Linked DNA regions of Homo sapiens: region 1 is linked to region 2. Evidence: fine-mapped expression QTL. Tissue or cell type: whole blood. Region 2 holds a variant in brackets; the other region holds the start of a gene. All regions are shown on one strand. Distances are from middle to middle.

Region 1 (13,823 bases), 20 kb before region 2:
AGACTGAGGCAGGAGAATGGTGTGAACCCAGGAGGCAGAGCTTGCAGTGAGCTGAGATCGCGCCACTGCACTCCAACCTGGTGACAGAGTGAGACTCCGTCTTAAAAATAAATAAATAAATAAAAATAAAAATAAAAAAACGGCGTGGCGCTTGTCCGAGGTCAAATGCCAGTCAGAGCGAGGGCCAGGCTGGCGGGAGAGGGTTGAAATGCCTGGGGTGGGGGGACGTGGGCAAGGGTAGTGGGGAGGGTGGGAGGGGAGAGACAGCAGGGCCGGTGCTGTCCGCTGCTTGGCTGGTGGGGGTGGGGGCCTGGAGGGCCCCTCAAGAACCTCCTGCTTTGCCTCTCGTCACTCCAGCCCCGGCCCCGGCCCCAGCACCAGCCAGACATCAGAAGCGAGGAGACTGGTACGCTCAGGTCAGGGCACACCCGCGACACCTCTGGGGTGCAGTTGGGAAACTGCGGCCTACCCCGTGGCCCACACCTCCCTGAGCCCGTTGGCCAGGCCAGGGGCACAGCCGGGGAGGGTAGGTGGTGCCAGCACCTGGTTCTACCAGAACCAAGAAGAGAAAACACTGCCTATTCCACGTGAGCAGCAGGAGCCCTCGGCGCAGCAGTCGCGAATGCCCGACCCACCTCCGTCCACGATGGCTTCATAGGTGACTTCCAGCAGCAGCCGCAGCTGAGGGTCCATCGTGTGTGCCTGCTTGGGGTGGACTCCGAAGAAGGAGGCATCAAACCTAGACAGGTCCTTCAGCTTGCCGGACCGCCGGGGCAGGCCGTAGAGCCCTGTGGGACAGGCGGGTGTTTAAATCTCTGACGGAAGCTGCCCAGAGGTGGGGGCCCTGTGGGGTGCTGCAGGCCCCTGGAGGGGCCATGGTGGAACTGAGGACTCTCTGCTATGCCTGGGAGGCCCAAACAATGGAGCAGGCTCCCCAGGAGGGGAAGACCATGGCCCCAAAGCGGGGACTGGTACGACCAGATCTGCTGCACAAGCCCCAAGCCCCAAGCCCCAATCCTGAGATGGGCCGCAGAGCAGAGAGCTCGGCGGGAGTGAGGCTGGGGGACCATCTGCCGGGCTGGTGCCTCGGCTCTACCATGCTGACTCACAGCTTGCCTGTCAGGTAGAGCTGCTCTGTGGAAGAGCCTACTGGGTGTGGGGCAGTTGCTCCAGCCTCCCGGAGCACATCTGGTATGCAACCTCCCAGCTCAGGACAGACACAGGCAGGGGCAGCCTGGCCGGAAGGGCTCTGGCCCCCCGCACCCCCTGCATGGGTGAGAGACCCCAGCCCGTCACCCATCCTCTGAGCTTGGCTCCTCCGTAACAAGCAGATGGGCCCTGCCTGGGCCAGCCCTCGGCCTTGCAGCCATTGGGGGAGCCTCCTGTTGGCCTTGCAGCCGTTGAGGGAACCTCCTGGCAGGCTGGGCGCATTTTCTAGGCCACTCTGGTGCAATGTCCAGGAAGGAGGCTGCAGCTAGGCCTCGCCCATGGGTGACCAGTGGCTCTGCAGCTGGGACCGGCCTCAGGCCAGTGCCTGGGTGGTGAGGACACAGCACAGCAGGGAGGCTGCTGTGAGGACAAAGGTGGAGATGGAGCTTCACACCCCAGGCACGGGGAGCCCCGCAGCCACATACCCGCCTTCCAGCGACGGTCATCGTCCGTGACCATGTCCACACCGCCGATGAGGTTGTCCCAGAACTCCTGCAAGTTCTCCGACTCTGGCAGCTTCCCGGACATGCCGGCAATCACCACCTCCTCCATGGCTGCTCTGCAGGGCGGGCGGTGTGAGTGCCCCACACATCCCGGCCACGACACCCCCGTCAACAGCCTCGGCACCCAGAACAGGTGGACACCCATGGGGCCAAGCACCACCCTGAGGGTCCGTGCGGGCCCTGGCTCCTGCGGCTCCCTTCCTCATGTGGCCAGTTCCTGGGCCCTGACCCCGCTCTCGCTGGGAGGGGCTGCGTGCTCTGGGAACAGGCCCGCCTCTGGGCCCTGACCCATTCAGTTCAGGGTATTGGCTGGGGTACCCCACTGGAGCCCTGCAGCCCTGGCCTCCCCAGCAGTTACTGGTTTCTGCGCCTGTGTCGGCTTCCACTCGCCTGAGTCTCAGCCTTCCAAGGCTCCTGGAGCTTGTCCCAGGCCATCCCTAGGGCACCAGGGGGCTCACAGTGAGGAGCAGGCAGGGTCACCTGAGATGGGGACAAGGCCTCAGGTGGCCAGCCTGCTAAGGGCCATCAAAGAAATGGAGAGGCAGGGTCCCAAAGCCGGGGCATGGAGGTGGCTGGGAGCCCTAGAGGGGGGTACTCAGCACCCATGCTCACCCGTGTTGGGGTGGGGGCCCGCTGTCCAGGCCAGCCCAAGAGCCACCAGGGCTGGGGAGGGACGAAATGGGGATAGCCTATGCTCTGGGGGAAAGGTGGCCCCTGCCCCACTGTGGACCGACCCAGCCAGTCCAACCCCTCCAGCAGGGTCCAACCTGGAGAACCACTCCTGGCCAGGACACGCAGGTGTTGCCTGGCACCCTTCACCTGCGCGGGTGAACCCACAGACGCTTGCCTCCCCATACCAACCCACACACCACAGGAGGCCCTCCCTGGAGCCCAGGTCCCTAAGACCCGGAACGGGTGCCCAGGCCGCCGGCTCCTCCTCCAGCATGAGGGCTGGTGCGGCCCTGGGGGGAGGGGGCGGAGGCCAGCGCTGGTCTGGCCACTTGCACGAGGCCCCAGGGCCTGATACGCGCGCCGCCCCTCGGCAGTGCGGCCTCCCTTGGGCCGTCCCGGCAGGGAGGCGGCCGCCTTCCCACCCGCTGCGATTCACAGAGGCTTGGCTGCCCCGGGCCAGCTCCAGGCCCGCACGCTGGGTCCTCGCCGCTTGCTATTCACGCGGGGTCGACGGCCAGGCAGGGGGTGGGAACACCGCGGCGCGCCCGGCCTCCCTTCGCCCCGGGCGGGGGCTGCTCGGGACCCCTGCGCTTCGGCCGGGCTGCGCCACGTGATGGGGAGGCCGGTCCCGGCGCGGCCCCTGCGCCCCCCCGTTCCTCCCTCGCGGCGTCCCCTTCGGGCTGGGCCTCGGCTCCGGGGCGGCTCCGGGAGGAGGATGCGGCGGCGCCTTTGTGGGCGCGGGGAGGCCGAGCCGGGGGCTCCTCCAGGCCCTTCAGGGTCCGCGGCCTCCCCCACGGGAAGCGAAGGCGGCTGTTGGTGGCTTTCCCCGGCGTCCTTCCCCCGCCATCCGCCCACCTACTCCGCGGGGCCCCGGGCGCCTCCGAAGGGGCACGAACACCGAGACCCGGACAGGCCGCCCAGGCGACCCCTGGATACGGGGCCGGGCCACGCGCGCCCCGAGAGCGGAGGATGAGGAGCCGGGCCACCCCGGGAACCCCGGGCCCAGCCCCGACCACGACCCGCGCCCCGGCCCCAGCGCCGGCTGCTCGTACCTGGTGAGGGCGCGGGCGGCGGTGCGGGCGGCGGAGAGCGAGGCTGGAGCGCGGCGGAGCGGGAGGCTGAAGCGCGGCGGAGAGGGAGGCCGGGGCCGCTGCCGTCTCTCTGGCTCCCTCTAGGCCGGCGCCGACGCTATTTAAACCGCGGCCATCCCCGGGCGGCCACGCCACATGGGCTGACAGCTTGGCTGCGCCGCCCAGGCCAATGAGCGTCGGGGCTGCGCCCCGGGACCCGGCGCGCCGCCGCCGGTGGGGTGATGCTCGTGCGCGCCGCCGCCCGAGCCGGGACCCTGCGCGGGAACGCGCCTGGGGGGGTGGGGCTGGGACTGAGGAGCGCCGGGGGCGGGGCGGGCGGGAAACCACCGCCCCCCGACTTCCGCCTCCCGCCCCGCGGGCCCCGACGCGCACGCGGCTGCGACCGAGCCCGCGGCGCGCCTCCCGAGCCATCCCCGACCCCCGTGTCCGCCGGGGCCACGTGTGCGGGATGGGAATGCTTGGGCCACACTGGGGACTACCCCGTGGCCACACCGGGGGTCCAGCCGGCTGCGGCGGGGCGCTCGGACCCACAGGCGCGCGGAAGGACGGACGGACCCGCGTGCCCGCACTTCGGCCGCCGACTCCACGCCGCCGTCGCTGCCCGCGCGGAGCTGGCTGAGGGCGCGGCGTTGCGCGGCGCGGCGGCAGCAGCAACCAATCGGGCGCCAGGGGTGTTCGCACCGGCCCAATGGCGGCGCGCGGGTGGGCGTTGCTAGGCGATAGGGTGATGGGCGGGCGGCGGGGCGGTCCCGGATGCCTCGCGGGCCGCGGCGCAAGTGCGGGCGTTGACCCCGGCCGCGGGCGCCCCGGCCGGGGTTACTGCCGGTCATCGCAGCGCATCCCCGGTTTTCCTCGCGGGTGCGGCGGGGAACCCAGACCCGAGACGGACGTCCACCCACCCGACGGCCCCTCCTTAGCAGCTTCCCGGGGACCCGGACGAGGCGCAGGGCCGAACGGGCGAGCGCACTCCAGGCCGCTGGAGCTCGGCGGAGGGGAGGGGCGCGGCCACGTGGCGAGCGGAGTCGGCCGGGACACCCACCTGGTGTGGTGCGGACAAAGGGAGCCGCTGCCCCACTTCCCAGGGCGGAGGCTGCGAGTTTTCCAGGCGCGCACCCACGGGCGGGGGCTCAGCCCGGCCCTCGCGCGCTCCCTCCCTCCCGAGTGATTCCTCGAATCGTGGCCCCTTGGGCGGCCTGAGCCCTGAAGCGCGGCCTCCCTTTTCTGACCGCTTCGCGCTTGCGGGGCCAGGCACCCCATGGGGGGCAAGCGGGCCTTGTGAGGCCACAGGTGTCTCTGGCTGCGTGTCCTACTTTGAGGGCTCAGCAAGCCCGGGCCGCTGAAGGGGAACCGGAGACTGGGGCCCCCGGCCCCTCTGCAGGTGTCCCGCTTCCTTCCTCTCCTGAGAGCAGGCCTGAGGGTCAGGCGGCCACTCCGCGTCTTTTCCCTTCTGGGGCTGTGGTTGACGCACGGTGGGACCGAGGGTCAAGGAAGGACAAGGGAAGACAGGGCCGGGGCTGGCCCCGCACTGCTGTCCCCACTGCGGGGGTTCTTCTGATTCAGGGTGAGGCCCTGTGTCAGCCTCAGGCGTGCGGGCACGCAGCTCCGGCTCTCCATGCTCCAAACCTCCCAGGTGGCCCTGGCTGCCAGTGCTGGTGATCAGCGGCCAGCGGGGCCCTGCTCTCTGCAGCCTGTCGAGGGCTGGGCCAGCTACAGGGGAGCCCTGGCTGGCTCCCAAGGAGGTTGGAGACTCGTCCAGCACCCTGAGGGCTTCCACAGAAAGTGAGCGGCAGCGGCCGGGCTTGGTGGCTCACGCCTGTAATCCCAGCACTTTGGGAGGCCAAGGCGGGCAAATCACGAGGTCAAGAGTTGTAGACAAGCCTGGGAAACAGGGAAACTCCGTCTCTACTAAAAATACAAACATTAGCCGGGTGTGGTGGCGCGTGCCTCTAGTCCCAGCTACTCGGGAGGCTGAGGCTGGAGAATAGCTTGAACCCAGGAGGCAGAGGTTGCAGTGAGCCGAGATTGCACCACTGCATTCCAGCCTGGGCGACAGAGCAAGACTCTGTCTCAAAAAAAGAAACAAACAAAAAAACCTCACAGGGCCGTGACTCGATTCCAGGGGACATGTGTGGGAGACCACAGAGCACTGAGAGCCTCCAGCCCATCCCCAACTCCGTCTGGATTCCCATGGAGCAAGTGACGGAGGCTAACCTCAAACGCCCCTGCCCTGGGGCCACAGCCTTTGTCTGTGTGGTGTGGTCTCTGCTTGTCACGGTTATCCGGCCCGCACACCTGTGAGCTAGGCCAGCCGATGGCACTGTCTATATTTTACACTGGGGGTGCAAACCAAAGCTGCAAAGGTCCCACGATTTGCCAAGGTGGCACGGCAGGTTAGGGCTGGGAGCAGCGTTCTCCCATCGTGTTCCCAGAGAAGCTGTCTGCCCAGTTCAGAAAGGTGGCCCGAGGGTATATGGCAAGGCCCGTCAATTCACCCAGCTGGGTACCGGCTGCCTCCACCCCTGCACTCTGCTGTGGGCAGAGTGTGACCAGGCCTGGGGGGTGCGGGGGACAGAGACTGGGCTCCTGAGGAGTGGGGGTGGGATATGAACCCCCCCCAGTCACCATCCTGCCGGTCGCAGAGCACTGCGTCCGTGTGATGAACCCCCACCCCAGTCACCGTCCTGTCGGTTGCAGAGCACTGCGTCCGTGTGATGAACCACCCCCAGTCACCCTCCTGCCGGTCGCAGAGCATTGTGTTCGTGTGGAGGACACGCGAGGACTCTTGGAAGTGCTTTTTGGCGGGGTAGTGCAGTGTGTTCCGGGCGGACGGGCGTCAGTTTACGTGTGCGTTTCTCATCCTTGCAGGTACCTGGCCCCGGGCACTCAGGTGGCAGGGACATTTTGCTGTTATCCTTCGTGGGGGTGGACGTGGAAGGCCCAGCAGTGACCGCTGTCCCCGGTTGGCCCCCACCCTGCCAGCACCTGACATGCACACCCCAACCTGCATGAGGCCCAGGTGCCCACCTGGCTTCCAGGGGTCACCTTGGCCCGGTTCACTGGGATCCAAGGCTCTCACTCCTTCTGGGAGGGCCCCTCCCATGGTACTCTCAGGAGACGCCTGCTTTGTGGGTGGGCTTTCTGATCTGCCCCCTACCTGCTACCAGGCTCTGAGGAAGGCCACACTGTCCCCAACACCACTGGTGTGCAGATGGCTGTGGGTGGTGACACGGGCAGGCCAGGCTCTGGCACAGGCACTTGATACTGCATTTCCCAAGTAGGACAGATAAACAACGCTAAGGCCAAGCAGACGCCCCAGGGAGGAACCTGGTTTTAATGGGCCCTGTGCTCAGGGAGGCCTTCAGTCAGCAGGGTCGCCTCAGCAGCATTTGGGAGCCTGCCCTGCAGCTCCCTGCCTCCACCCTGCACGCTGTGCCCACACCCCCCCACAACACGTAGGTGAAAGCACAGGCACCATGCGGAGGCCCCGAGCACCCCTTAGTGGGGCGGGGTGGGGGGAGGAAGTCAGTCCATAATGTTGTAGTTACGGATCTTGGGGGGCCTCTGGCAGCCTTTAGCTTTTGCAGGATGAGACCGGGAGGCTCCTGTGGTCTTGGCCTTTGCCTGGGCTGCTGTCTTCATCCCTGGGGTGGCAATGCCTGCCTGCATCTTGACGGGCCTCCTGTCGGCTGCTGGAGGAGCTGGGAGCTCTGTCAGGTAAAGAGGAAAAAACAGCATGCATCAGGATGGCAGGGGGAGCAGGAGGCTGTGCTCACAGGCACTGCACAGGTGCAGCACTTCCGTGTTCCCGGCCAGCGGGGGCCCTGTGACCCTTGGCCTGGCTTTCCTCCAGGAGTCCGTGAAGGCCAAAGGATCCTGGAGTGACCAGAGAGCTGTGGCCTCGCCTTGCTCAGTGGGTCCTGCTTGGCAGGGACTGGGCCTGCCCCTCCACTGGGCACCTGGACATGTGGCTCTGAAAATGGTCCTGTTGTGACCATTTCGTAATGGGTCCCAGGAGGGGGCAGGGGTGCTGTGTGGTAATGGGTCCCAGGAGGGGGCAGGGGTGCTGGGGTAAATGGTTGACTCAAAGCTCCTCCCCCCAGGCTGCCCCGGGTGTCCCTACCATCTGAGACACATTGCCTGCCCCCGCCTCCCCGATGGGCCAGCAGTGCCAGGCTTTTGAGGCCAAAGGAAAGGCCGTGCTGGTGGGCACCACGTGGCCAGGCACAGGCCAAGGGCCCAGGAGTGCGCTACACACAGAGGCTGGGGCCTAAATGCCAGATAGCCCTTCCTAAACATCGGCTAAAACCATCTTCGCAGAGGGGTGTTGTAGGTGATCTTCTTTATCTGGCCAGTTTTTCTCTATTTTTCATTTTTTCAATTAAGAATGTGGGGGTTTTTTTTGGTAAAACAACAGCAAAATGTTACTAAAAATCCATGCAAGGGCTGGGCTTGGTGGCTCACGTCTGTAATCCCAGCACTTTGGGAGGCCGAGGTGGGTGGATCACCTCATGTCAGGAGTTCAAGACTAGCCTGGCCAACAATGGTGAAACGCCGTCTCTACTAAAAATACAAAAAATTAGCCGGGCACGGTGGCGGGCACCTGTAATCCCAGCTACTTAGGAGGCTGAGGCAGCGGAGTCGCTTGAACCCGGGAGGCAGAGGTTGCAGTGAGCCGAGATTGCGCCACTGCACTCCAGCCTGGGCGGACAAGGGCAAACTCTATCTCAAAAAAAAAAAAAACAAAAAAAACCCCACAGTAAGATGTGAGCTCAGCGTCCACTGCGTGGCCACACTGTGGCTGGGGTGAGGTCTAGAGGACTCCAGCACGTGGCTGAATGTGGCCCAGTGGGCAGTCTGGACAGGCTGACCCAGGCAGGTCAGCGGGCGGCCAACGCCTCCTGCTGGAGCCCAGCCTGTGTGGTCTGCGTGCAGCCTGGGTGACTGGGAAGCGTCTGTGCTTTGGGGACACCGGCAATGACGCACTCTCAGCTGGGCTGCGCAGTGCCCATGGGGGCAGCCACACACTCCCAGCCCTGGCCCTGGGCCCCTCTTCCCATCTCAGCTTCTTCCACTCCGATCCACTCTTGGGGTCTCAAGACACCCGGAACCAGTCTTCCTTTTCCTGCAGCCCCGTTGGGGTCACACAGTCCCTGGCCCCCTGCTGGGGTCCTGGGGGGCCCTGGACGCTGCCTGCTCCCTTTGTTTCCAACCCCCAGAGGAATTCCTCCTCTTCACACAAAGGCTACCACCCTTTATCTCTCAACAATAAGCCTGCCTGACCTCCTGGTCCCGGCCAACGCCCCCATCCCCACTCCCTCCCCCCACCCCCCACACTGGCTGGCAGAGGGTGGGGTATCCCGTGGAAAGGGCTTCCTGCGGGGAAGCTGGTCCTCTGACCAGGCCCTAGTGCTCCACTGTGACCCTGAGGCATCTCCTCAAACCCAGAGGCCTTGGTTGTCCCTCTGTAATGCTCAGGGATTCTGGGGGCTTTGCCCGGCTTGATCCTCCTCAGACAAAGCCTGTGGGGATTTTCAGAAAAAGTGAGCTGAGGGAGGGGGGTGAAGGGCCTGCCCCTTTGCCTGGGAGGCCTGAGCTGGCCCTGCTGGGAGGACCCTGGCTGTATCCCGGGGCGAAGCAGGGAGGTGTGAGTGGGTCACAGTCCCCGGGGCAGGGAGGGGCAGGGAGGGGCAGGGAGGGTGAGCTGGCCCCCTCCCCAGGGCAGGCCGGCCCCTAGCTCAGAATATCCACTTTACAGGCTCTGGTTTCTTCACTGGTCCTTTTCCTGCGGAGCCCTCCTCAGTGATGGTGGCAGGGAACTGGCCATGAGCCCAGGACCCCAGGGCAGCGGACAGCCCCAGCCCAGCCAGTCCTAGGTCAGAGGCACGGAGCTGGATGTGTCAAGGCGGCTGCCCCAGGCGTGACTCCCTGTGACCCCGGATTCTTCTACCTGATGCTAATCTGAGGTCAACCCAGTAACTGGTGTGTAAAAACGCTCTTGGCCTCCACCACTCTCTGCCCCGCCTTCTCGCCTGACCTGTTTTGCCGAGCCTGGCCGGGATTTCTCTTTCTGCGTTGGGCTGACTGGGCCGCAGGGAAACCATGTGGACACACAGTTTGCCGGGCACAGCGTGAGGAACGCGCCTCTTGGGTCCTGCACCCCTCCCCCACGGGCTGCTTGTGCTCTGGCCCCGAACTGAGCTTCTGGAAAGTTCCTGAAACATCCAAGGCCTTGCAGTGATTAACCAGGGGAGGGGGACTGGGGCCTGCTTGCCCCTCCCAGGCTTAACCCCTCCCAGGTCCTGGTGTGTGCTGAGGCAGGGCCACCCAGGCTGGGCTCCGTCCCCTCAGGCGGCTGCACCATACTTGGAGGGTTTTTTAAATTTTTATTTTTATTTTTGAGACGGAGTCTCACTCTGTCGCCCAGGCTGGAGTGCAGTGGCGTGATCTCAGCTCACTGCAAGCTCCGCCTCCCGGGTTCACGCCATTCTCCTGCCTCAGCCTCCCGAGTAGATGGGACTACAGGCGCCCGCCACCACGCCCCGCTAAGTTTTTTGTATTTTTAATAGAGACGGGGTTTCACCATGTTAACCAGGATGGTCTCGATCTCCTGACCTCGTGATCCACCCACCTCGGCCTCCCAAAGTGCTGGGATTACAGGTGTGGGCCACCAAGCCCGGCTTGGAGGTTTGAAGCTGGTGGAATCTCAGGGAGGACATAGCCTGTCCTATTGCAGGGAAGGTGCGGCCCTCACTCCCGTCTCAGCCTGGGGGCATGAGAACTCTGAGCACAAAGAGGACGGAGCTGGTCCCCAGCTTTCTGGCCACCCTGTGAGTTTCTTCTCCTGCACCTGAGCCTCAGCTCAGCTCTTGACCAAGTTGGCCTCTGGTGGCTCATTCTCCAGGCTGCTCCGGGCTCTCTGGGTGCCCCTGGGCACACCTACGTGGCTTCCTAGGGCTTTGGGAAGGGCCAGACGGTGAGCCCACGCCTTCCCTGGTTCTCCAGAGCCTGCCTTGGGGCTGGGGAGGGCCTGGCCCTGATGGCAGCTCAGGCCTCAAGTCCATTCTGTGGCACAGAGGCCCTTCCGTCTCCCTGTGGCCTCCGCTGCTCTGTGTGGTTCACCCCTGCTGTGTCAAGGGCCCTTGTTCTGCTGAACCCCCTCTGGCTGCCACAGGGGTCCTCACGCACCCAAGATCAACCCTTCTCAAATGCATCTAGTTATTTCCAAGTCTCTTGGGAACAAGGCTTTTCCCACCACTGTCAGCACGGCACCCAGGCCTTTAGTGCAGACGGTGACAGTGAATGTGACTTGACTCCCCCCACCCCGAATCTCCAGAAGCTGCGTGCACCTTTCCAGGGTCCCCACGCCTGGGAGGCTCACAGGCCACGCCCACCCGTGTCTCCCCAGCCTGCGTCAACCCTCACCTGCTAAAGTCTCCTAATGGACACCCCCACCCCTGAGCTCCTGGAGCTCAGCCCTGGGGGGTCACCGTGGCCCCGGGGCTGCCTTTGTGGGACTGAGTGTGACAACAGGAGAGCAATGGGGTACAGGGGGAGGGAGGCCCACGTGATCTGGTTCCCACGGTCCCTCCACAGGGGGACACTCCGGGCCTGCTATGTCCAGCTGCCTTCCCCACCTCACTGGCACATGGAGCCTGGAGCCCCCACTGGGCAGATGCACAAGAGGGGAGGGTACTGGACATTGCATGCTCCAGGGCTCTGGGCAGTCCTGCCACCCATCACTCAGCCTGGTGAGGCAGGGCCAGCAGGAAACCCCAGATCCTTCAGGCCCCGCCTGCTGGCCTTTGGAGCAGAGGAGAGGTGGGCCCTCGGGGGCCTGGGCGCCGACCACAGGCTGACCCCTTGTTTCATGCCAGCACCTCCTCTGGGCGCCTGTGGCTACTCCCCCAACGGCACTGGCAGGTCCCCTGCTGCTGCTGAGCCTGCCCAGGCCTGTCTGCTACAGCCTGTCAGTGTTGCCCAATGTGGGCCCCATCCCAGCCCTTGAGAGGAGTCACCTAGTAGTGGGGTGCAAGCTGGAGCCCCAAGGAAGGGAATTCAAGGGAAACACATCGTGGGCATAAGGCTTTGAGAGACGTGGGTCTGTCCCTACCGGAGGCTGCATCACGGAAGGCGGGCACACAGGCCTCACTTGGGCGAGAAGAGACCCAGAGACGCATGGCCTTCCTCCTGGGCCGGCTCCCGACCAGAGCCCATCTGAGCTCAGCCCACAGGAAGGGGAGGTGCCAAGAACCCCAAGCACAGGTGGCTGCAGGCTGGTGGGTGCCGAGGAGGCCACTAGGAGGCTGAGACGGTGAGAGCCAGGGCCAGGCAGTGGCCTGAGAGCTGGACAGCCTCTGGGTATCTCCACACCCCACCCTTCTCCTGCCTTTCAGAAGAGTAAACGCAGGAGAACGCCCTGAGGCCCCGGAAGGAAAGTGACAGGCAGCGGCTGAGCTGGGGCGACAGGAAGTGGCAGCTGTCTCCGCTGTTTCGGAGGCATGGGAACTGTTTCCTGGTCCTAAAGTGAGGAATGCTGGCCTCATGCCCCTTGGGCCAGGACTCTGCACTGAGTGCTGAGTGCCTGGGCTGGTGTTTAGACGACTCGTGGTCTCTGTTGGCACTGTCTGGGGACAGCAAAAAGCAGCAGGGGCCAGTGTGCAGGGGAGATTCTGGGTAAAATTCATGAAAAGGGAACTTTCAAAAGGGGCCCATGGGGCCTTCCCAGGTCTGCCAGGCCAGCTTACAGCTCCAGGTGGGCACCCTAGCATCTCAGGGCCATAGACCAGCAGGTCACCGCCATGTCCCCGGGGAACAGCACTGCCTGCCACTCACTTTGCCTGAGACCCGTGTCTCAGGGCTGCTCCCTGCATGTCTTGGCAGGAGGGCGGACAGCTGGGAAGGAGGCCACACGCTCCTCCAGGGAGCCTGGCTCTGCAGGAGCTACGCCAGCCACACACTTATCAGCTGCCCGACCTGCTCAGGACACTGAGGGCCACATGCCTGGCCAAAGGCCTCTCCCCACTCCCTCTTCTCCCCTGGAGACCAGGCCCCTGGAGTTGCTCTCCAGAGATCTGGGCAATGACCCTCTGGATCCCAGGGTTTTTGGTTCCCCTGGGAAAAGAGGCAAAGGCCCACACACCTGCAGCAGGTTGGGGGTGGGGGGATGCATGGCACAGTGGCTTGGCACCCGGGTGGGGCACAGATGCCGCGGGAGTGGGGAGTGGGGAGTGGCTGCCTCGAACCCTGCTGTGTGGCTTGTCACCCTCCATGGCGTCTCTGCGCCTCCGTTTGACTCCAGCTGCACGGCACACGGGGCGAGGTTAGCATCAGGGGCCAAAGCGGACCCCCGCCAGAAAGGAGGAAGAGGCCCCCAGGTAGGTGCGTGCTTCTGGACCTGGCGCTCGGCACACTGTGAGGATGGGCGGATGGAGTTGGTCTGCAGGTTCCAGAATGAATGGGGCCCTGTTGTGACAGGAGAAGGAGGGCAGCCTGGGTTGAAGAAACACCCCCTGCTGTCCAACAGCTGCACTGCCCGCTCCCCTGGCAACACCTGCCACGTGGACTGGAGAAGACACATTAGCCCTTGGGCTGGAAGTCGTGGACCGGCGTCCACCTGAGATGGGACTCTGGGAGGGAACAGCCGCCGGCCCTCCTGCCTCAGCTGCTCTCAGCATCCTACAGTGCCATCGGGTGCTCTCAGGACAGATGCCTACAGAACAGGCTTTTCTAAAGAAAGGGGGTGGGCTCCAGGGCCCAGAGTCACGGCACGGACGAGGGGGCTTTGGATCACTCTGCACACACCTCAGGATGGAAGTCCTGGTCAGCAAATGCATGAGCATTTCTGGTGGACCCACCTGCTCCTGGGGCAGGCTGGTCTCTATCCCCATTCCCAATCCCACGTGCCTCCTTGCCTCTGTCCACGTGATGTTGGAGCAGCAAGCCTTCTCCAAGCTCAGAGTCAGAGGCCACAGGCCACTGTCCCCTTGGCCAGGCCGCAGTCCTTGACTCTGGAGCACTCGGAGAGCAAGTGGCAGAGACGAGTGACCTGCGGCCGCTCTGGCGCTCTGCCTCCTAGTGAGATGAGTGTCATGGCTTGCCCGGGTCCTGGAGTTGTGCTGAGAGAGCACCTGACCTGTGATCCCACCCCTGAAAACGGGCTCCTCTGTGGACAGCCGGGCTGTTCTTGCTCCTCGAAGGAGTCCCCCAGCCCCTCAGGAAAGAGGTTCGGCCCTGGTCACAGACTGGGCATAAAATCTGCATATTTATAGCAGGGTCCGCCGAAAGCCTAAAACAACAGTGAGTTTCAGGGCAGGATCTCTCTTGCTTGTGTTGCATTGGTGTCATGTTA
Region 2 (16,791 bases):
TTGTCCAGTTTTCTAGTTGTTCATGGAGGAACATTAAAGTCTGGTCCTTGTAACTACGGCCTGGCCAGAAGCAGAAGTGAGTGCCAGCCGTTGTGTGGGCATAGAATAAATATTATCAGAAAGTAAGCCGATTTGGTTATTTCTTAATGTATTTACTTTGTTCTAAAAGTTATTTCAACACAAGTTACTTTCCTAAGTGGCAGTCATGGTTTCGTCACTACAATTTCAAGAAAAGAGCTAACAGACATCTACTTGACCATCTGTTTCTCAGAAAGTTCCAAGACTGCCCTGTCCTTTCAGAAGCCACAGGTCATGATAATCAGTGAAGGCGGGGGGCTGGGGTTGTCCGTGCCATTCAGGGCACCCCAGTGCTCCCTTCTTGGCCAGAGCACTGGTTCTTGGATTCCTGTAGCTTCAGTGACAAGGTGCTGTGGGGCTGTGCATCCAGCCTCATAAAATGTCACCAGCGTGACCTGCTCTCTCAGTCACAGCTTGTCCTGAGAGCAGCAATGGGACTAGAACGACAGGAGCAGGTAGTGAGAAACAAGAGAGCAGGGTCCTCTCCTTCCTGGACAGCAGGACTGTCCTGATCCCACTGCAAGGCTGCTGTGATGGTGACCAGTGAGGCCCGCGCTGCATGTTTTTGCACACTGAGGAGCTGCCTCCATTCATTCCCCCTCGCATTCCTGGAGCCCACGTGCTCCTTACCAAGCTCGCCTCCTGGTTCATGTTTGGGTGAAGGGCTCCACTCCACGCCAGGCTGGGCGTGGGGCCCACACCTGTCATCTCAGCACTTTGGGAGGCCAAGGCGGCAGGACTGCTTGAGCCCAGGAGTTCGAGACCAGCCTGGGTGACATAGTGAGACCCCATTTCTACAAAAAAATAAAATAACATGTAAAAAGATTAGCCAGCTATGGTGATGTGCACCTGTAGTCTCAGCTACTCAGGAGACAAAGGCAGGAGGATCACTTGAGCCTGGAAAGTTGAGGCCACAGTGAACCAAGATTGTGCCACTGCACTCTGGCCTGGGCAACAGAGCGAGAATAAAGTAAATAAATAAGAGCCCCAAGGCCCCCTTGCCTGCCCTGCAGCTTGGTCTTGCAGCTATGTTGGGCTGTCCATCTCACCTTGGCCATCAGGAGCCTGACGTGCACCTTCTAGTGCAGGTTACCTGGGCCCTGAGGGGGTTCCCTCGTCAGTACACAGAGTGACGCCACAGATGGAAGAGTGGACTGTAACGTTCCCTGCGCGTTTACAGAGGAGGTACAGACTGTTCTTCACTGTCCCCGTTTCTTAACATGTCACAGCCGGCTCCTCACCCATCCATGGCGGGGCCATCCCGACCTGCTCTCCTGAACGAAATGAACGAAAGCCCTGGGTGTCATAAGAAGCACAAAAGTGCCTGCGGAGGTGGGGGCCAGAGGCAGCATGGGGACTTCTGGCTGGGTGAGGGGGGAGGGACGGGGGCGTGAGGATGAGCTGGTGCTGAGGCCAAATGCTCAGGGCATGTTTTTATGTCTTGGGAGCCCAGCTGGTCCTGCAGAGGCCAATCACACTGAAATGCCACTCTGGCGTTCTACCATCCTTTCAGGAAAGGCCCAGAACAGTCTCAGCTCAAAAGCACAGGACCCCAGGCAGGGGAGGGAGGGAGTGTGTCCTCGGCGCCCACTGGCTCCTGAATGCAGAGGCTGGCAGCCCCTGCAGGGCCACAGTGACTAGGTGGAGGGCGGCTGGAGCTCGGCTGTCACGATCCCGTGCTCTGTCTTCTCAGTGGCGAGGTGTGGGAGTGGAGACACGCTCACCCACAGCCACTCCACCCCCAGGCGTGGTCCCACTGGAGCCCACCAAACCTCTAAAATTGTAAACATGACTCTTAGCTGGAGGGCCACCTGTGGGGCAGGAGTGTGCCATGATTTGGCCCATACTTTGTTTGGATTTACTTAGTTGCCAATATTTTGAAAAGGAAACACTTTATATATAAAAAGAACAGGATTTCCAGCCTCTCTCAGAAAAATGGGAAGACAGGCTTGTTGGCCCCACACTGCCATGGAGGGCGGCCCTGGGGTGGCACTGACATGGCCTCAGAAGACCAAGCCCGCCCGCAGGGACACCACTGCCCCCACTCCACGAGGCTGGCAGTCACCCTGTGCATGGGCACCTAGTACCTTCTCTGCAGAGGAGGCTCTGGCCTGGACTGGATCCAGGGCTTGGATTCAGATCCTGATTCCACCAGCTGGGGCTGTGTGACTTTGGACTTGGCCTTCATCTGAGCAAAGAGCCCCAGCCTGCGGCAACCACTGGGGCCGAGCAGGGCAGTCACTGGAGCCCTGTGTGATCTCCAGCGGAGGCTCCACCAGCATTCGGGCTGTCCGGGAAGAGGGGGCAAGAGGGGGCAAGAGGGGGCAAGAGGGGGCAAGAGGGGGCGGCTTTTGTCCTTCTTTCCCTTTGGATCTTTAGATGAGAAAAGCCTGGCTACAAGGTGTCTTCAACACACAAAACTGCCCAGAAATGCTCTAATTCTACAAACAGTTTAAAAAAATTAACCGAGTTAGCAGCCAGTTAACAGAATTATGCGACCTTAGGATACATTTTATGGGCCAGGCATGGTGGCTTACGCCTGTAATCCCAGCGCTTAGGGAGGCTGACATGGGAGCATTGCTTGAACCCAGGAGTTCAAGACCATATTGGGCAACATAGTAAGACCCTGTCTGTACAAAAAAAGTTTTTAAAAATTAGCTGGGCATGGTGGCTTACATCTCTGGTCCCAGCTACTCAGGAGGATGAGGCAGGAGAATCACTTGAACCTGGGAGGTGGAGTGAGCTGAGATCGCACCACTGCACTCCAGCCGGGGCGACAGAGGGAGACTCTGTCTCAAAAATACAAAAAATTTATGCAACCTTTTTTTTTTTTTTTTTTTTTTTGAGATGGAGTCTCACTCTGTCGCCCAGGCTGGAGTGCAGTGGTAAGATCTTGACTCACTGTAACCTCCACCCTCCGAGTTCAAGCGATTCTCCTGCCTCAGCCTCTGGAGTAGCTGGGTTTACAGGTGCCTGCAACCGTGCCAGGCTAATTTTTCTTATTTTTAGTAGAGATGGGGTTTCACCATCTTGGCCAGGCTGGTCTTGAACTCCTGACCTCATGATCCACCCGCCTCAGCCTCCCAAAGTGCTGGGATTACAGGCGTGAGCCACCGCGCCCGGCCACAACCTTTTTTTTTTTTTTTTTTTAAAGTAAACATCTCAAAATCTGTGGAGAAACAAATATAAATTTCAAAAGAACAAATTTTTTAAAGAAAAAAAAAGCCAGCATTAACATGGGACACCCTTTAAAGTTGTGACCATTTTTGCTCCTAAACCATCCTCTGCAGCTGGAGAGTGGGGTGGGGAGTGAGGGTGGGAGGCAGGGGGGCCTCCACCTAGAAGAAAACAAAATCACTCACCTCCGACCCACCCACAGGGTGCATGGCAGGGACCGCCTCCAAATCCCACCCCCAGGGAGCGGCCCAGGGGCGGCCCACTGAGCCCTGGCCCCAATCTTGATGAGGCTCTACATGGCGGCCCTACCCACTTCTCCTATGCAGTCTTCCCCACCCCCACAGCACAGCCGAATTCCTCAGAAGCTCTGGCCAAGCATCTCCTCTGACCCCAGGACATGCTTGGCCCTCCCCCTGCTCTAATCAGACAAGTCCCTTCCAGAACTCCAGGGTGCAGAACAAGGGCTGGGCCTTGGGACCCTCAGCTATGGGATCTGTGGCCATGTAGCGTTGGGCCTCATTTCTGCATTTGACAATGGGATGGTAGTAGCTGTACAGCCTTAGCCTAAAGACCTGAGCACAGGTGAGACACCAGGTATGGTGTCTGGCACTTAGTAGGCACTCAACAAATACTCGAGGAAAACACACAGAACCATTCCCATTATGTGTATCTGTAAACCAGGCTTGCAGCCCTCCCTCTGGTCTCCAGTCTAGGTCCCCCCACAGCAGGGCCCTCTCCGGAAAGCTCCTGTCTCCCTTCGAGTCCCTGACTTTCAGAAGTCACAACAAACGCCCATTTTTCTGTTGCTAGCTTTCCTAGTCCCCTTTGAAAAGGACAAAAATGTCGACAACACATAAACCACATATAAGATGGCCAATTGATAGGAAAAATGACCAACCTCATCATTTAAAAATGGCGAATTGGGCCAGGTGCGATGGCTCACGCCTGTAATCCCAGGACTTTGGGAGGCCGAGGTAGATCACTTGAGCCCAGGAGTTCGAGACCAGCCTGGGCTAACATGGGGAAAACCCATCTCTACAAAAAAAATAAAAAAATTAGCGAGGCATGGTGGCGCACGCCATAACCCCAACTACTCCAGGGGCTGAGGTGGGAGGATCACTTGAGCCCAGGAGGTGGAGTTTGCAGTGAGCTGAGATTGCACCACTGTACTGGGCGACAGAGGGAGATCCTGACTCAAACAACAACCAGGCAAATTAGGCCAGGTGCTCATGCCTGTAATCCAGCACTTTGGGAGGCCAAGGTGGGAGGACTGTTTGAGCCCAGGAGTTCGAGACCAGCCTGGGCAACATGGCAAGATCCTGTCTACAAAATGTAAAAAATTAGCCAGGTGTGGTGGTACGTGCCTGTGGTCCCAGCTACTTGGAATGCTGAGGAAGGAGGAATGCTTGAGCCCGGGAGGTTGAGAAGCCTGGGAGGTTGAGGCTTTAGTGAGCCATGGCTGCGGCACTACACTCCAGCCTGGGCGACGGAGTGAGACTCCATCTCAAAATACATACATAAAATAAAATGGACTAGAAAAAAAAGGCAAATTAAAACCAATAATGAAGTATCAGTTTTGACTTATCAGATTGGCCAACAAACAAACAAACAAACAAACCATTTGCTAAATCCACCAATACTGAGTGAGGAAAGGTGCCTCACGCCTGCAACCAGGAGCAGGGGGCCAACGTCCTGGGGGCAATTGGGTAACAGCGCTCAGAACTCAAACTGACCCTACCTTTGACCAGCTATTTCCCTTCTGATCTAACAGCAGCCTCTGTGAGCACGCAGGGCACACGCACAGGAGGTTCACTCTCTTAAGAGCTAAAAACGACAGGCCGTCCAAGTGTCCACAAACATCAGACACCAAAACAAAGGGAGGTGAGCCGATGCGGCGGCTCACAAAACTACCAGAAAGATCTGTCGGCTCTGTGTGTACTGACATAAAAAATACTGCAGACATAAATAAAAAAGCAAGCTGCCCCCACGATATGCAATTGACAAGAAAAGAGGATATACACATATATTTAAAAAACCACTTCTGTTCTGAGGGTGGCTGGGGAGTCTGGAGGGGTGCAGGGGGACTGGGCAGTTGTGGCCTGGTGGGTAGGGACTGGGAGGGAGTAAGAGAAGAGGGAGAAGGAACACAGTCCACTGAAACCCAGTGTGGTGTTATCCATTAGCGCAGGACTGAAACCCGATGTGGGTGTTATCCATTAGCGCAGGACTGAAACCTGATGTGTTATTCATTAGCGCAGGATGCCCCACGCATCCGGAGATGGGGTTTGGAACATCCTTTGCCCCAGCGAGGTGCGAGGTGCTCCGGAACTTGCGGGGCTTAGCTGCCCACACACGTGGGACAGACTGTTGGGTGGCTGGTCCCTGTACCGGCTCCTGAAAGGACATTTGGGCACTTGATACACACCCATAAGGTGCACTCTAGGGAGGTGGAGGCAGGCCTGCTGCAGGGGGTCGGCTTCAGAAGCAGGTATTTCTTTGGGGTGAGGTCAGACATCTGCCTGGGTGCTTCTCTGGAACTGCCTTAGGGAGAGCTTCCGTCCGCACTGGGTGCCACTCAGTCTGCCGCGCTTTTTATGTACGCTGACTTTTGTTGTGCTGCTGAAGAATATCTTTCCAGTTTGATGATTTTTCAGGTAAAAACACTACCTTAGAAATCTGTGATTTCTTCACCCGTATCTAAGGTTAACCCTCTTCCGGCCATTTGTAAATACTCCATTCTACTTCTGCGTATTTTCGTGGTTTGCCTTGGAGTCCCTCCCTCGCCCTGGAATGCCTGGTAGTGTGTGGTCCCCGTGAGAGGAAGCGGAGATCAGAGTAAGCTGTGTTCCCACCCTGCCAATTGCTGAATGGTTCTTTCTTTCCTTGGCTCCTGGAGAACAACTACATTCTTATCTACCAGGCTCCACTGAGCGGGCGGGAGGTGGGGGCGGGGGTGGGGGTGGGAGTGGGGGCAGGGGTGGGGGTGGGGGTGGTGAGAAATTAGTCGTATTTTGATTAGAATGACACTACAGATTACTTTACTTTGGAGAAAACTGCTGCCTTTGTATATTTAATGCTTCCATCCAGGAAGTGTCATTTTTTTAAGCCTCAAACATTTTTTTGGATAATGCTTGGTAGTTTCTCTAGCATTATCTGAGACTAACATCTTCTGAGACTCCTGGGTTTTGTAGACTCGGGGCCTCCCATGCTCCCATCCCTCACAGTTATCTCCCTGTACGTGGAGCAGACAGGAATCAAGGATCATGCCCCTGCACCTGTGGGTGCCCCCCCACCCCTGTGCACCTACGGGTACCCCACCTGCAGACCATGCCCCTGCCCTCCGAGACATTCTGAAGCAGACCGATAGAATCAAGTTTAGGAAGAAAAATGGCATGGCCTGGGGCTGGTGCAGGAAGGAAGGAAGCTGGATGGGGGACAGGTCTCTTGGGCAGCCTTTGGAGGAGGCAGGTGCTGGGCAAACAAGGAGGGTGCCTGCAGGTGCTGCAAGGTCTGCAGGTGGGGTACCCACAGGTGCACAGGGGTTGGGGGGCACCCACAGGTGCAGACAGGCTGGAGCTGGAGTGCAGGTAGCTGGGGGAAGAAGGGAGGGAGATGAGGCTGGACGTGCTGGGCCCCAGCAGTCTGTGTGGGAGACCTATCTATCTGAGGCTGTCATAAAAACGCAGGTGAGAGAGGAGGCTAGGCTTGGAGGTGGGTCCTCCAAAGAGCCGCATCCAGGGTGTATGGGGGAGCCCCGACTCCAGCCAGCTGTTCCAGCCTCAGAGGTTGGCCGTGCCCTGGGACGGGGTGACTGCTGGGTCTGGATAGGTTGGCAAAGCAGGGCTGAGGACATGAGCAGGAGGGTGGTTCGGGGCCTATCCCAGGTCCAAGAGGAGTATGGCTGTTCAACACAGCTGTGTGACGTCGTGACTAAACACCATATCCTACAATAGTCGTTCATGTCATTAATTTAGATGCCACTAAATTGTTAACTATTTCAGTATCATTTCATTATTATTATTATT[A/AT]TTTTTTTTTTGCAGAGATGTTGCCCAGGCTGGTCTTGAACTCCTGGGCTCAAGTGATCCGCCCACCTCAGCCTCCCAAAGTGCTGGGTTTACAGGCTGAGTCACTGTGCCTGGCAACATTATTACTTTAAACTCCAATCATGACTGTGTAGTGTGCATACTCTGTTACCCACAATGCATGGAACACGTTTAAAAAAGAGGAGGAAACTTCCTCTCCGTTTCTAGAATGGAGCTTTCAGACTGCTTGTCTGGCGAGCGACTGCCGAGCTGCGCTCTGTCCTAGTGTCGGTGCACTGGAGGGCGCAGTGTCGCATCTTAACCAGAAACCCGGTGCCCTTAAGTGGCACCCCTTACTTCACCAACGCAGTTTCCAAGGTTTTAAGGAAAGTATTCTTACATGAAGTAAAAATATCACACAGATAATTCAGTTAAGCATGCTCAAATATTCAAAACACAAGGAAAGCATCAAGATACTTCGCAGATCATTAAACAACTCAACTGCATGAACCACTTTAGTCTTTTCCTAAATCCTTCACAGGGTGAATCAAAAGCCCCATGGACTTATGCTGAAACGTATCTTTCTTGCTTGCTTTTTTTTTTGAGATGGAGTCTCACTCTGTCGCCCAGGCTGGAGTGCAGTGGTGCAACCTCGGCTCACTGCAAGCTCCGCCTCTCGGGTTCACAGCACTCTCCTGCCTCAGCCTCCCAAGTAGCTAGGACTACAGGCGTCCGCCACCACGCCCGGCTAATTTTTTGTATTTTTAGTAGAGACAGGGTTTCACCGTGTTAGCCAGGATGGTCTCGATCTCCTGACCTAGTGATCCACCCACCTCGGCCTCCCAAAGTGCTGGGATTACAGGGGTGAGCTACCGCGCCCGGCCTCTTGCTTGCTTTTTAATTGCAACACCGATGCTAAGAAATACCAGCCGTTGCCAGGCATGGTGGCTCCCGCCTGTAATCCCAGCTACTCAGGAGGCTGGGACAGGAGGATTGCTTGAGGCCAGGAGTTCTAGCCCAGTCTGTGCAACACAGTGAGACCGTGTTTCTAAAATAAATAATAAAGAAAAAATAAATACCAGCCACCCTGTCTCAGCCTAGGGAGGCAGGGACATGGCAGGGCCTGCATCTGGCCACCTCCTCCACCTGCTGAGGCCCCCAGTGCTTCCCCAGCTTTCCTGCCAAGAGGCCCCAGTGCTACTGAGCTGCAGGCAGCAGGCTCTCGAGGACATGACCTCACTCACAGGGCTCAGGGTCTAAGACTCTGTTAAGACAGGCGCCTGGAGCCGGGTCATAGGGAGGCAACATGACCCCCACAGCCAGGAGATGGACAGCAGGTCTGCTGAGGGCTCTGGGCAGCTTCTCCCTCCCTGATTAAAAGAAAAAGATTCAGGAGAGAGAGGCCCTTCACCTTTTGGCCTTCTCAGGGGATGGTGGGAGTGTCTGCAGCCATTGCGGAGCCATTAGGAGAAAAGAGAATCCCAGAGGGGCCACCTGAGGCCCGTTGACCTGGGACTGAGGGCTCCGATGAGCTCCTGGGCCTCAGTCAGCGCGTCCTGCCATGGGGCCGTGCATGCCGCCTGCTGAGACCATTTTGGGCACTCAGGATATGGACCCCTCAGTTCTCTCCTTATTTTAGTGAGGCGTGTCATTTTCCACAGTTACCACGAGGAGATAAAGGCCGGGAAGCTCTGGTTCACGTCACTTTCATATCCTGTCCTGTGACTTGTAGCTAAAAGCATCTTAACTGATCCACACCAGCCCGCCTTCCCTCCCAGGCCACCCACACTCTCAGCCTCGGTGGACGTGTGCTGCTGTGTCAGGAACGCTCCTTCCTGCAGCACGGCCTCGGCCCCAGGTGACTCCTGTGGTCACCAGCTCCCTGGTCTCACAGAGAGCTTGGTGGCCCTCTTCACTCTCTCCCGGATCTGCTTCCTGAGGCGCCAACCCACCATTTTACAACCCACTTTCTCAAGCCTCCTACACCGCTCCTTCCTCCTTCAGAGCCTGTGGCCGGCCTCGGGCTCTCAGCCTGGATGCTGAGCATGTAAGAGGAAATGAAAGGAATCTGCCAGAACCGTTTCCCACCACCAGGCCAGCTGCTGGGACCAGGGACAGCCTCCCTGGGGCCTGTGCACTCCCGCACGGTGGAGGCTGCCCTGGCCACTGCTGCAGACCCTTTGCAAGGGCGTCTGTCCAGCAAGCAGCTCAGAAGTCGGAGCAAGCATCTCCCTCAGGCCCAGGGCAGGTGCTTGTGGCGCTCTAGGACTCGGAGGGCAGGTGCTCGTGGTTGCTCTAGGACTCGGAGGGCAGGTGCTTGTGGTCGCTCTAGGACTCGGTCCCCAGGCCTGGGTTCCTCAGCTGAGATGCATACCCACTGCACCTGCAGCCACTGCCTGCCCAGCTGCCTGCTATGTGGACAGAGCCCTTGGTCTCTGACCCAGGAGCCTCCTGTCTCCCGCCAGGCTTGCTTGTCAGCTTGCAGGCTGGGCAAGTGCACAGCACTGGCTGCAATCAACCTTCTGGCTTCGGTGCCCACCTCTGCCTCTGTCCTATTAAAGGCCAGCCCTGCACACGGGCACCGAGCCCCTTCCCCTGCCTCCTCCAGGACTTCTCTCCTGAGTCATCCCATTTCCCACTGCCTACCGGCAGGCTTTACATGACAGCTTGTGAGCCTCCCCTCTTGACTCCACATCTTCATAAATACGGCCTCTTTTCACTGCTGATTTTCAGAGCAAAGTTTCTTGGATATGTTGTCCATCCCATCTCCCATCCTCTCCCCAAGCCGGGAAGGATTGAATGAAAATTCTACTACCCCCCTGAGACCACACTTAAGACCACCAGTGACCTTCACCTTGCAAAAAAGCAGGGGCTGCTTCTCTGTCCTGACCTAACTGGACCTACCTGTAGCGTTCCACTGCACAGTTTAACCACTCCTTCCCTCCTAATAACTTTTTTTTTTTTTTTTTTTTTGTAGAGACAGGGTCTTGCTCTCTCACCCAGGCTGGAGTGCAGTGTGTAATCACAGCTCACTGCGGCCTAGAACTCCTGGGCTCAAGTGATCCTCCTGCCTCTGTCTCCCAAAGTGCTGGGATTACAGGCATGAACCAGTGTGCCCGGCCCTTTTTTTTTTTTTTTTTTTGAGATGATGTCTCACTACATTGTCCAGGCTGGTGTGGAACCTCTGAGTTCAAGCGATCCTCCCACTTTAGCCTCCCCAAATGCTGCAATTACAGGAGTGAGCCACCGCCCGGCCTATAGCAATTTTCATGTCAGACAAAATAGGTTTTTTGGTGAAATACAACATGAGGGGTTATGAGGGATGTTACATACTGGTAAAGGGAGGAAAAGATCAAGAAGGCAAAAAACCTAAACATGTATGCACCTAACAGCGAACCTCAAAACACATAAAGCAACAATTGACAAAAACAGATAGATTGATAATTGTAGTTTAAGAACTAATATTTCCCTCTCAGAAGAGTTAACATCATAGTAATTTAATTCTCTGACCAGAATGTAAAAATATTAGAAATCAGTAACAGACAAAAAAATAAAATTCCACAAATCTAGAAACTTAAGGAAAAATTCCATTTAAGTTAAAGCAAAATGAGTTGAGTTATAAGTCCTACAAGGGAAAGACAAGGGAAACATGAGGATGTTGAGATTTATGAGACATGGTTAAAGCAAAGCAACGCTTGGAGGAATATGCATTTCTTTGGCTGCATTGGTCAGAAAACAAGACAGATTTCAGACTTGAAGAAGGCATCATGAAGCTAGCACTCCTCCACTATCCTTGTAAATCATCCAAAAGCAAAAAAAAAAAAAAAAAAAAAAAGATAATGAAAAGCAAAAATGCAAACTTCATTTTCATTAAAACTAAGAGCTAGAATTGGTGGTGGTGGCGGGGGCTACCAAAGGCTGCAGGAACTCGGCAAGGGCTGTGTCAAAGACATACAGATGCCTCGTTACAGACCCCAGAAAGAGCAGAGGGCATTTCTCTAAGGCAAGGGTACACCCTGAGGGTAGGACCTAATTCCTTGTTTCAGGAGTAGGAACATGGGCTGGCAGCAAGTGCTTCCCTGACCTTGTTCCGTTCCTGGAAGAGAGGAGGGAGAGTGAACCAGGAACAGAACAGGCCCTATCTGCAAAGTGCAGTATCTGTGGGGAAAGGGAAGAGAGAAGCTGTATCAGCTGTTAAAAGCCTGATAGGTGGAGACTTGTATTTAAAGCTAAAATCAACGACACGACTCTGCTGGGCTGGAAGATGGTTCTGGCTTCATTTTCCATACAAACTTTTTCAAATAGCTAGTCAAGTAAAAATTTACCTGTTCTAAAGATGAGGCCAGGCACGGTGGCTCATGCCCGTAATCCCAGCACTTTGAGAGCGTAAGGTGGGAGGATCACTTGAGCCCAGGAGTTCGAGACCAGCCTGGGCAACAGAGCGACACCTTGTACCTACAAAAAACTAAAACAATCTTAGCTGAGCGTGGTGGCGTGTCCCTGTGGTCCCAGCTACTTGGGAGGCTGAGGTGGGAGAATCACTTGAGCCCAAGAGGTCAAGGCTGCAGTGAGCTGAGATTGCCGCACTGCACTCCAGCCTCGGTGACAGAATGGGACACTGTCTCTAAAAAGAGAAAAAGAAAAAAAAAATGAGGGGGGAGCCAAGAAACGAAAGTGCTCCAAGAGAAAAGGAGAAAGGAAACAAGCAAACGAATGAACACGAACGTCTCCAGAAGAACTTTCCATTGAGTTGATGAAAATTTGGACAAAATGTTTTGTGGTGAATTAAAAATGCAAGGAGGCGGTGCCCCTAAGAATCCTGAGCACAGAGGAGAGCCATGGAGTGCAGGTGGGAGGGTCAGGAAGACGGAGTGGGACGCGGCTGCGTGGAAGACAGAGAGAAACGCGCCACATTCGTGATGCCAGCACTGGAGCACACGGGGAACGGAAGCCACACAACCCCATTCCTTCCTAAGGCAGAAGGGAAGCTGCGTCAATCCTAAGAACACTTACAATAGTGTTTGTGGGGAGGGGCTGGGGGAACCAGACTCAGACAAGCCAAGTCTAAAAATTATATACAAAAAAGGCCGGGCATGGTGACTCACGCCTGCAGTCTCAGCACTTTGGGAGGCTGAAGCGGGAGGATCGCTTGAGCCCAGGAATTTGAGATCAGCCTGGGCAACATAGGGAGACACCATCTCTACTAAATTTTTTTTTTTTTTTGAGGCAGAGTCTCATTCCGTCACCCAGACTGGAGTGCAGTGGTACAATCTCAGCTCCCTACAACCTCCACCTCCCAGGTTCAAGTGATTCTCATGCCTCAGCCTCCCAAGTAGCTGGGATTACAGGCATGCGCCACCAGGCCCAGTGAATTTTTGTATTTTTAGTAGAGACGGGGTTTCACCATGTTGGCCAGGCTGGTCTTGAACTCCTGACCTCAACTGATCCACCTGCCTTAGCCTCCCAAAGTGCTGAGATTATAGGCACGAGCCACTGCCTCCAGTCCTCTCTCTACTAAATTTAAAAAGAAAGAAAAAAGAAAAAACAAATACATGCAAATAACCAAGAAAACCCTGAGAGAGAAGGATAAAGAGGAGATCCTACATCAGCCAGACATGTAAAAGGACCAGGAAGTGACACTGATTCTGACCCAATGGAACTGCCTGTGAACAGACTGAGAGTGGCCGAACGAACCGTCCGGATATAGCTCCAAAAGCACATGGAACATTTAGCACCATGACAAAGGTGGGAGTCCGAATATGCGGGAAGTGTGAGCGATGGAAAACTGGGAGCCGTTGCCACTTTGGGGGTTAATAAGAAGTGGTTCTGGCCAGGCACGGTGGCTCACCCCTGTAATCCCAGCACTCTGGGAGGCCGAGGTGGGCGGATCAACTGAGGTCAGGAGTTCGAGACGAGCCAGCCCAGCATTGTGAAACCCCGTCTCTACTAAAAATACAAAATTAGCCTGGAGTGGTGGCGGGTGCCTGTAGCTCCAGCTACTGGGGAGGCTGAGGCAGGAGAATCATTTGAACCCGGGAGGAGGAGCTTGCAGTGAGCTGAGATTGCGCCATTGCACTCCAGCCCGAGCAACAAGAGCAAAACTCCATCTCAAAGGAAAAAAAAAAAAAACAGACAAGATAAAAAACAAGGACATTAAATTACATAAAAATAAAAAATATGAACATAAAAAAACACCATAATAAACATTTAAAAACATGAAGAACTGGGAGAAAACATTTAAATTGTTGTCACCGAAAAGGCCTAATTTCTATCACATATAATGAGCTGCTACAAATCAATAAGAAAGACCACAATCTAATACACAAATGGGCAGGTAACTGAAGAACAGGGAAAGGAAGTGGCTCCTAAACACACACGAAGATGCACGACCTCCCAGCAGAGGCGCTGATGCCAATCCTGCTGCCACCGGCAAAAGTTCCGTGTGGCTACAGGACTCTCAGACACTGCTGCTGGGAGCAGCCTCTGGGTGGGTGGCGGAGGCTGAGGCGATGCTGTCCACCACACGTGGCACGCGGGCAGCCTTGACTACGCAAGCCCCTGGGGCACGTACACGTGTGTTTTCACACACACTGCAGCCTGTAAGGTTACTATTCTAACAGTATCTGTGACGGTAAAGGACTGGAAATAGCCTAAAATGCGCATGAAGGAGAGAATGATTAAATGAATGAGGCACACCCTCATGACGGAAGACAGAAGCTGTAAGGTAAGAAGGGGACGCCCTCCATGCAGGCACACAGGAAGGACGCACGCTCCCGCCCCAACCACATCACACGTCCCGCAACTCCAGCTGCCTCGAAGCAGCATCTGTTTCCCTCCCCCCTTCTCGCTACATCACAGACCCATGCAGTCCTCACAAGGTGCACCCTTCAAACAGACTTTTCTGAAAACTTCCTGAGACCAGTAGCAGGAGCTGGCACTGTGACCTGCTGAGTTTACCAGGCCTATGACTTAGGTGCAGAGAAGAGTCTCAGGGCGGCAACGTCCGCGCAGCAAAGCAGGACGAGGATGAGGATGCGGCTGACACTTGTCTGGCCCGTGAGGCTGAGCATCACTGGGGTCGGCCTGGCTCTTCCCCGGGAGCATCGCTGGGGTCGACCTGGCTCTTCCCCAGGAGCAGGGCCGTCTAAAGTGCACCAATGCCCACGCGTCTCACCTGGGCTCCATTCTAAGTCAGCCTGCGCCCGGGTGTACAGTGCTCCATTCTAAGTCAGCCTGCGCCCGGGTGTACGGTGCTGCATTCTAAGTCAGTGTGCGCCCGGGTGTACGGTGCTGCACTAGGAAATGGCATGGTTTCTGCCCTTCAGGGCTTTGCACCATAACCCGGGAAACACTCAGGTGCCAAATGAGAGGTAAAGAGACTCCATGCATTACTCAACCAAAGTGCAGGGATTTCAGGGTGCAGGAGGCACGCAGGGTGCTGACTCTCCACATGCCCCTCGGAGAGGGTGGCCCTCGCCAGCTGCCAGCTGTGGGCAGCTCCTGGGGAGGGCAGTCTCCTACCTGGAGTTGAGTCACCCTGGGAGGTGACACCAGAAGGGCTGGATCCCAGGTCTAGCAACCTCCACATGTCCTGGAGGGTGCCACTGGCAAAGGAGGAGGAGCTGTGGGATTGGCGACCATGCTCCTCAGGGTGCTGGGGAGCCTGGGGTGGCTTTGGGGACCTGTCTTCTTTCTGCCGAGGTGATTTACAGGTCACCGTGTGGATGCTGTGTTGTGTCTAGAAAAGACATCATCGTCTTGAAAGCCACCCTCTCCAACCCAGAGGAAGCCACAGGACTCCCCCCAACCACTCCCCTCGGAGCAGTAAGGCGACAGTGGGCCTGGCTTAAAGGCCCAGGCAGATGCTCCCAGGATCACCCAGGAGAGGCAGCTGCAGACAGGGATGCATCCGGGGAGCGAGTCTCAGCGCTGGGAACGCTGAGTGTGGGCAGGGCCTGAATCTCAGTGCTCGTCTCAACACTTAAATGACAAAACATGTCTAGGGCAGAGGCTGTTTCGTTTCGATGGGGAATGAGCTGAAATGCAGGGCAGATACCCTGAGGGGCACAGAAAGGAAAGGCCAGCGTGGGCCCCATGTGCTTTAGGGGTCCCGGGGCCCTCCTAACACTCTTACCACCCTTGTGGGACCACCCGGCAAACGCTCTGCAGCTCACCCTGCCATTGTGAGCAGTCCCTGATGACGGCACAAAGGCAGGCATGCAGAGCGAAGGCCCCTCCGAGAGGCCCAGAGCACCCAGGCCCCGGCTTCCCTGCTGGCCACACCCCACACAGCTGCACTTGCTCGGGCGCCGCCACTCTCACCTTCGGGCCTTGCAGGGCGTCAAGTCTGCTGCCCACCTGTGCTGAGCGGGGCTGGTGCTTTCCCAAGTGTCTGGAAGGAGCCTCATCCTCGGCACTCTTGGCGTCCTGCCGTGGGGATTTAAATGAGAGGACTCTGGTATTCACATGTACTGATGGTGCATGTCAGTGAGTTTTCCCACAAGATTGGGAAGAAATGCCTTCCCACATTTCTGGTATTAAAGACTCACACCATTTGGTGACAGCCCGGACTGAAGGGACCTGTTTCCCAGACAGGAGGAATGGAGCAGGCTTCCCCAGTCATTCATTCCCAGGAGCCTTCTCTGCAAGGCCAGGGCAGCCTATGCATGGCCTGCCTGGGGTGAGAGCCCCCCGGCCCAAGATGGACACGAGTGGCCCCCAGTGACACCACCTGGCCGATCCTGCTTTTTTGTTTTTTTTTTTTTTGAGACGGAGTCTTGCTCTGTCTCCCAGGCTGGAGTACAGTGGCGTGATCTCGGCTCACTGCAACCTCCGCCTCCTGGGTTCAAGTGATTCTCCTGTCTCAGCCTCCCAAGTAGCTGGGATGACAGGCACCCACCACCATGCCCGGCTAGTTTTTATATTTTTAGTAGAGACAGGGTTTCACCATATTAGCCAGGCTGGTCTTGAACACCTGACCTCAGGTGATCCGCCTGCCTTGGCCTCCCAAAGTGCTGGGATCACAGGTGTGAGCCACCACGCCTGACCTGATCCTGCTTCTTGAACCCATCACTGGTGCCTCTGCCCGCCCCATGCCTGATGTCTCCCCCCTTCTGGAGGGAAGACTGTGGAAAGGAAGCCAAAAGGGGGCACTAGGGAGCAAACCCTAAGAACATGGAAAGGAAACATGGAGGAAAACAGAAAGGGAAATTCAAAGCAGTGGGACCTGTACAGAGCCATGGACAATAGATGGCCTGCAAGGAGGCTGTGGAACGAGCCCAGCCCTGCCCCTTCCCAGGCACACCATGAGTGTGCCCACAACAGTGGATGCAGAGTGTACTTGGCCCATGTTTACCAACGTTTGCCTGTTCACCCGAGGAATGCACATGCATGAGGTCTGATGTAAGGTCCCTGATGCCAGTGATCACGGGCACAGCCTGATGCTCACTGCCCCCCGGGCTTCGTCCCCAGTACCTTCTGATCAGACCCTTTGCCTGTTTGTCACAGGGTGATT

Direction of the effects. Alleles are on the strand shown, and positions count from the first base shown. SD is a standard deviation of normalised expression in the study named.
In carriers of allele AT in region 2, the expression in whole blood of the gene that starts at base 3,552 in region 1 tends to be lower than with A alone (moderate effect, 0.63 SD a copy in TwinsUK).

The links.
Region 1: FASN starts here. The variant in region 2 is fine-mapped to the expression of FASN in whole blood (TwinsUK, PIP 0.92).

The regions. Positions count from the first base shown.
Region 1 is chr17:82,094,685-82,108,507 of GRCh38, forward strand. FASN (fatty acid synthase) reads right to left here and starts at 3,552. Exons shown (of 43, transcript NM_004104.5): 1 at 3,437-3,552; 2 at 1,635-1,768; 3 at 636-788. The coding sequence starts at 1,761. It overlaps CCDC57 (coiled-coil domain containing 57), which reads right to left. Exons shown (of 19, transcript NM_001394669.1): 19 at 6,786-7,182. The coding sequence ends at 6,998. RefSeq lists enhancers at 1,861-2,776, 9,179-10,092, 10,093-11,006, 11,288-11,337, 11,378-11,707 and 2 more and silencers at 2,645-2,694, 2,755-2,964, 2,985-3,174, 3,245-4,724.
Region 2 is chr17:82,112,894-82,129,684 of GRCh38, forward strand. CCDC57 (coiled-coil domain containing 57) reads right to left here. Exons shown (of 19, transcript NM_001394669.1): 17 at 15,600-15,704; 18 at 14,799-15,015. Among named protein-coding and RNA genes, the nearest start is that of FASN, 23 kb to the left of the region's middle. RefSeq lists an enhancer at 3,976-4,883. The variant A/AT (reference allele first, on the strand shown) is at 7,281.